Regions from separate parts of the Homo sapiens genome. Here region 1 is linked to region 2. Evidence: fine-mapped expression QTL. A gene starts in region 2. The other region holds a variant in brackets. All regions are shown on one strand. Distances are between the middles of the regions. Region 1 has its middle 8.0 kb from the start of PIGBOS1. Region 2 holds the start of CCPG1 (cell cycle progression 1).

The links. PIP is the estimated chance that this variant, and not a neighbour inherited with it, causes the effect.
Region 1: its variant is fine-mapped to the expression of CCPG1 in whole blood (TOPMed, PIP above 0.99).

What each region holds. Positions count from the first base shown.
Region 1 is chr15:55,309,595-55,312,614 of GRCh38, forward strand. It overlaps a transcript of RAB27A not described here. Among named protein-coding and RNA genes, the nearest start is that of PIGBOS1, 8.0 kb to the right of the region's middle. The variant C/G (reference allele first, on the strand shown) is at 1,776.
Region 2 is chr15:55,407,075-55,409,791 of GRCh38, forward strand. CCPG1 (cell cycle progression 1) reads right to left here and starts at 1,285. Exons shown (of 9, transcript NM_001204450.2): 1 at 1,147-1,285. It overlaps PIERCE2 (piercer of microtubule wall 2), which reads left to right and starts at 1,421. Exons shown (of 2, transcript NM_001198784.2): 1 at 1,421-1,712. The coding sequence starts at 1,695. All of the region lies in intron 8 of DNAAF4-CCPG1 (DNAAF4-CCPG1 readthrough (NMD candidate)), which reads right to left. RefSeq lists enhancers at 505-784, 1,145-1,414, 1,465-1,664.

The DNA.
Region 1 (3,020 bases), 97 kb before region 2:
CAAAGGATCTTCAAAGGCAAACAAGAATTGAGAGTCAGGATGTACAGGGATACAGAAAAAGGCATCCTTAAGGTCCAGGACTGTAAACCACTCTGCTTCCTCTGGTATTTGGGAAAGCAGAGTATAAGGGTTAGGTACAGCTGGGTGTAGATGGACAATGGCCTCATTGATAATCCCGAAATCTTGCACTAACCTCCACTGTCCATTGGGTTTCTGTACTCCTAAAATTGTAGTATTGCAGGGGCTACTGCACGGTTTTACTAGGCCTTGGGCTTTTAGGTCCTTAACAATTTTTTGGAGTCCTTGTTGGGCCTCGGGTCTAAGGGGGTACTGCCTTTGGTAGGGAAAGGAGGCAGAATCCTTTAGTTTAACTCGAACAGGACGGGCATTCTTTGCTCGTCCATATTGTCCTTCTGTTACCCAGACTTCAAGCAGGGGACAACAAACGGGTGTTCCTTCTCCTATGTTCAGGTGTATAATGGCCCCTGTTTTTGCTAGAATGTCTCTCCCTAACAAGGGTGTGGCAATTTCAGGCATAATTAGAAAAGCATGTGAAAAGAGTAAAGTTCTCCAGTCACAACTTAGTGGCTGGGAGAAGTATCTAGTGACTGGCTGTCCTAGGACCCCTCAGATAGTGACAGATCTGGAGGACAGTTGTCCAGGACAGAAGAGTAAGACTGAGAAGGCCACGCCAGTGTCCAGGAGACAGTTAACCTCCTGGCCCTCAATGGTCAAGCACACCTGGGGCTCTGTGAGGGTGATGGCATGGGCTGGCACTTGCCCCGGGCACCCTCAGTCCTGCTGCTGGATCATCTGGCTAGTGGCTTCTGACTCAGAGGACCTTCATCCCCTGGGGCAGTGGGCCTTCCAGTCATTCCCTTGACATAAGGGGCATGGACGAGGGGGTGGCTTATTTCTATTTGGACAATCTTTTTTAAAGTGTCCTTGTAGACCGCACTGAAAGCAAGCCCTATTAGGCATTCGATTTGCCCAGCTTTTCCCTTTTCCAGAGCCTCCAAAGTCTGCTTGCCTGAGGGCCATGACTAAAGCAATGGCCTTTTTTTAAATCCCATTTGTCCCATTCCACCTGCTCCTCCTGATCTCTATTATAAAAAACCGAGGTTGCCAAGTTCAATAGGTTTTCTAAGTTTTGCTCCGGGCCTAAGGCAGACTTTTGAAGTTTCTTTCTAATGTCTGCAGCTGACTGAGTGATAAACTTATCCTCTAAGATTAGTTGGCCTTCAATATAATCAGGTGACAGAGAGGTATGCTTCCTCAATGCCTCCCTTAGTCTCACCAGAAAGGCGGTAGGATTTTCTTCCTTTCCCTGTGTTACAGTGGACATCATTGCCAATAATTCATAGGCTTCTTCCTAGTTTTCCTTAGTCCTTCTAATACGCAGGTTAGCAAATGTCTGCGGCACCAATCTCCATATCCTGATTCTGTGTCCCACTGAGGGTCTACACTGGGAACTGACTGCTGGCCTGTGGGGAATTTTTCTCTTTCCTCTGTTGTCACCCTATCATTGACCTGACTGAGATACCAGAGATCGCCAAACTCTCAGGCTGCAGTTATGGCAGCACTTCTCTCATTTGGAGCTAGTGTCTGATTTAGCAGTAACATTGTATCTCTCCATGTCAGATCAAAGGACTGTCCTAACCCTTGTAAAACCTCAACATAGCCATCAGGGTTATCTAAGAATTTACCTAGGTCTATTTTAATTTGCTTTAAGTCTGAGAGAGAAGAAGGTACACGCACTCTGGCTGGGCCGAATT[C/G]TCCTCCCACTGCTTGGAGTGGGCATAATCGGGGAAAATTGCACTCTGTGGTTCATTGTTTACCCCTTTGTCTATCTCCTTTTGGACAGTTTGGGTTGAAGGGGGGTCCTTATTAGTTGGGGAAGGAGTCGAGGGGACGCTGGGGTAGGGAGGTAGACTCTGAGGGCTTCCCGTAGGGCATAAATCACACTTTTTACATAATTGTGAGTTGTCTCTTAATGAAAAGAAAGTTTGTACATATGGCACTTCACTCCTTATGCCTTCTTTTCTACAAAAGAGGTGTAGCTGTAAGCTAGTGTTATAATTTATACTTCCCTCAGGAGGCCAGGTTTCTCCCCCTTGAAGAGGATATCGTGGCCAGGTGGTACTGCAGAAGAATATAAGTCGTTTATTTCTTAGCATGTGAGAGTCCAGTTGGTCCCAATTCTCCAGAATACATCTCAGGGGCGTTTCTGCCTTGGGGGGAACGTTTCCCATTGCTTTGGAGATCCCTTCGTGGTCACCAAATGTTACTGGGGGTCCTTACTCCCAGAGCTCCCGATAGTGGCAGGCTGCTTCCAAGACGGTGGCAAGCCTCGTGTTCTCTGACCTGGGGTTCTTGGCCTCACGGATTCCAAGGAATGGAATCTTGGGCCATGCGGTGAGTGTTATAGCTCTATTAGAAGCCGTGGGTCACGGAAGAGAACCGTGGAACCCAGTGACTAGTGTTCAGCTCGATTAGGACGAACCCAGGCTCTTAGCCGTGCAGGAACAATGGCAAGCCTTCAGTCCGATCAGGAGTGGCAATGGGCGCCTCGCTGGATCAGGAGCACAGCAGACACCCTGCTGGATCCGGAGGGATGGAAGTCAGCGGCGGGTCTGCGACAGCGGCAAACAACAGGGGTGGACGGCGAGCAAAAGCTCAGCTGGAGCCGTAACAAATATGGACCAGAAGACTGCAGAAGCAAGACTTAATAGAGTGAAAACAGAGCTCCCATACAAAGGGAGGGGACCCAAAGAGGGTAGCCCTGAACATATATTTTCAATTATCTTGGGCATATGCCTGTAAGGGGAATTGCTAGGCCATATAGTAGCTCTACGTTTAACCATTTGAAGAACTGCCAAACTTTCCCAAAGTGACTGCACCATTTTACTTTCCAACCAGTAGTGTATGAAGCTTCCAATTGTTTCACATCCTCAACAGCACTTGTAATTTTCCATCTTTTTGACTGCAGTCATCCTAGTGAACATGAAATGGTAACTCAG
Region 2 (2,717 bases):
AAATTTAGCTGGGCGTGGTGGCGGGCGCCTGTAATCCCAGATACTCGGGAGGCTGAGGCAGGAGAATCGTTTGAAACTGGAAGGCAGAGGTTGCAGTGAGCCGAGATCGCGCCACTGCACTCCAGCCTGGGCAACAAGAGCGAAACCCTCTCTCAAAAAAAAAAAAAATATGAATTAAAATAATACCCTCACCATCTCCATCTTCTGCTATATGACCTGAACTCAGAAAATAAAAGTAAACCATTCACACTGGATGTGTGTGATAAATATCCCCTGAGACGTGTGGGACCCAATATGATTCTAATCTTAAAAGATACGATGCAGTAATAGCGATATTTCAAGCACTATCCTGTAGATTGGAGGAGACAAATCTAAAATTCATAGTACTATATAGTTAGCTATTCTAACTACAAGAATGCCCAACTGTGTTTTTCAATAAAAGTAGAGCAGAACAGTGCAAACTTCACCACTCAATAAAATACCTTACTTGGCGCTCCCAATAGTGCTAAACATAAACAACGCGTACAAGGCACTGCATGGGACAGCTGCTAATGAGGACAAATCGATTAGGGAGACCAAAGCTAAAGGAGGCCACTGGAACTGGAGAAGGATATGGAGAGGTATTTGATCATCATCAGGCTGGCGTGCTAGCGGAAGTCTCCGGGCATTATTTAATATTTAATCTTTCTATTCCTGACATCACGGGGGCTCAAATGTCATCAAAAGACAGGCTGGCATTAAACCCGGCAGGGTGACGCACATAACATCTTACCATATGGATTTTCATCAGTCCAGACCGACAAGCACCTCAAAGCCTGCCCAGTGAAGGAAGAAGGGTGGCCCAGGCCGTCAGCTCTCCCACCCTTGGCGCGCAGTTCGGTATAGCACTCGGGGTTTGGAGGCTGCAAGACCACCGGACCGGACGCCCCAGGGTCGGCTCGGGCCTCCGGAGCTGTGCACTCGCGCACGGCCCGAGGAGGTCGCCCGTGCGGCCGCTGACACCAGGCGTCAAGTCCCCGCCCGAGCAGCCCCAGCCTAGGAGGCGGACCCCGCCACTGCTCCTCTACTGAGCCGAGCGTGTCGGCCAGGGACTCAGACAGTCGGCACAAACCCCCTCCCGGGGTCTAAGCCCGCCTAGTACAGTACCTGAAGGGGCAGCGCCACCTCCGCCCGATTGTGCTGGCTGCCCCAGTGGCGGCGGTCACAGCTCGGGCGCCAATGACGCCTCTTATAAAAACAACCTGCTCGCAGGCGTCTGCAGCCGGCAGGCGGTGACCGGCTGGGCGCCGCAGTGCATGCCGTGACGCGTAGTCCCGCCTGCGCCTCCTGCCCGGCAGCGGTGAAGAGAAGAACTACCACTCCCGAAGTGGAGCGCAGGCCGCCGCCGGGCGGCTGCGGGAAGCTGGGCCAGGCGGCCGCAGATCCCCACAACATCCGGGAGCCGGCGACCACTTCCAGTTGCTATGGTTACGAGTTGCAACCTCCAGAAAGAATTCGTGGTTTCACCCGGGAAAACAGCTCCCCGGATTAAACGGATAGGTTTACACATACTGATCCACCCAGCTATTCATCTTCTGTTTGCTGCTTTAATTGGGTGCGGTTAAAAGGCCACGTCCCTAGGCGTTCACCGGCTTTCTTGCCATCTGCTGCATGAAAACTGACTTTGCCGAAAAAATTAACAAAGAAGAGCGAAAATGACAGACCGCAACCGGGTGAGTTTAGGCAGAGGGCTAGATGTTTGGGAATGTTGGTATTCGCTAGTATAATTTGAGGCACCACCTACTCCTACCACCCCCAACCCCACAACCCCGAAAAGCACTTTACAAGGCAACTACTGAGCTTTTACATTTACACTTGTAAATGCACGTTTCCTTAAGTCCGAATAGCCTCTGAAGGTGTAAAGACCATCGAGATTGTATGCATTCATACCCTACTGTTGCAAACTGTTCAGTGATGGTTTTGAACAAGAAAAACGTACTTTGTTAATTGTATACTTATTTAAATTGCACTGTGTCAAAGAAGGGAGTTGTTTTGAAAAAGGATTTGGTGGCCGGGCGCCGGGGCTCAACGCCTGTAATCCCAGCAATTTGGGAGGCCGAAGCGGGTGGATCACCTGAGGTCAGGAGTTCGAGACCAGCCTGACCTACATGGTGAAACTCCGTCTCTACTAAATACAAAAAATTAGCCAGGAGAGGTGGCGCGGGCCTGTAATCCCAGCTACTTGGGAGGCTGAGACAGCAGAATTGCTTGAACCTGGGAGGCAGAGGTTGCAGTGAGCCGAGATTGCGCCACTGAACTGCAGCCTGGGCAACAAGAGCAAAACTCCGTCTCAAAAAAAAAAAATCTTACATTTATATTCACTCTTTACAGAAGCAATAAAAAGTTTAGGTTTCATTCTCTGTCCCCTAATTGTGGTAAAAGTAAATAAATAAATGGAAAAATTAATAATAAACGTAAACATTAGCAAGGAAGACGGTGGACCTGAGCAGAGACAAAAGAGTGCCTCAAAATTAGACCTTTTTTATTTTTTATTTTTGCTTTTCTATTAACTATATTCAACATCAACAGTGACATCAAAAAATCTTAATTTTATAATTACAGCTTCTGCGATGGGCATTATTAATCAATGGCTTGTTTTCATTTATCTTTTTAAATGTATATGTATCTATACCAAAGGACTTCGAAAGGTCAAAGTGGTCTGGCTTTCTCTAACTGAA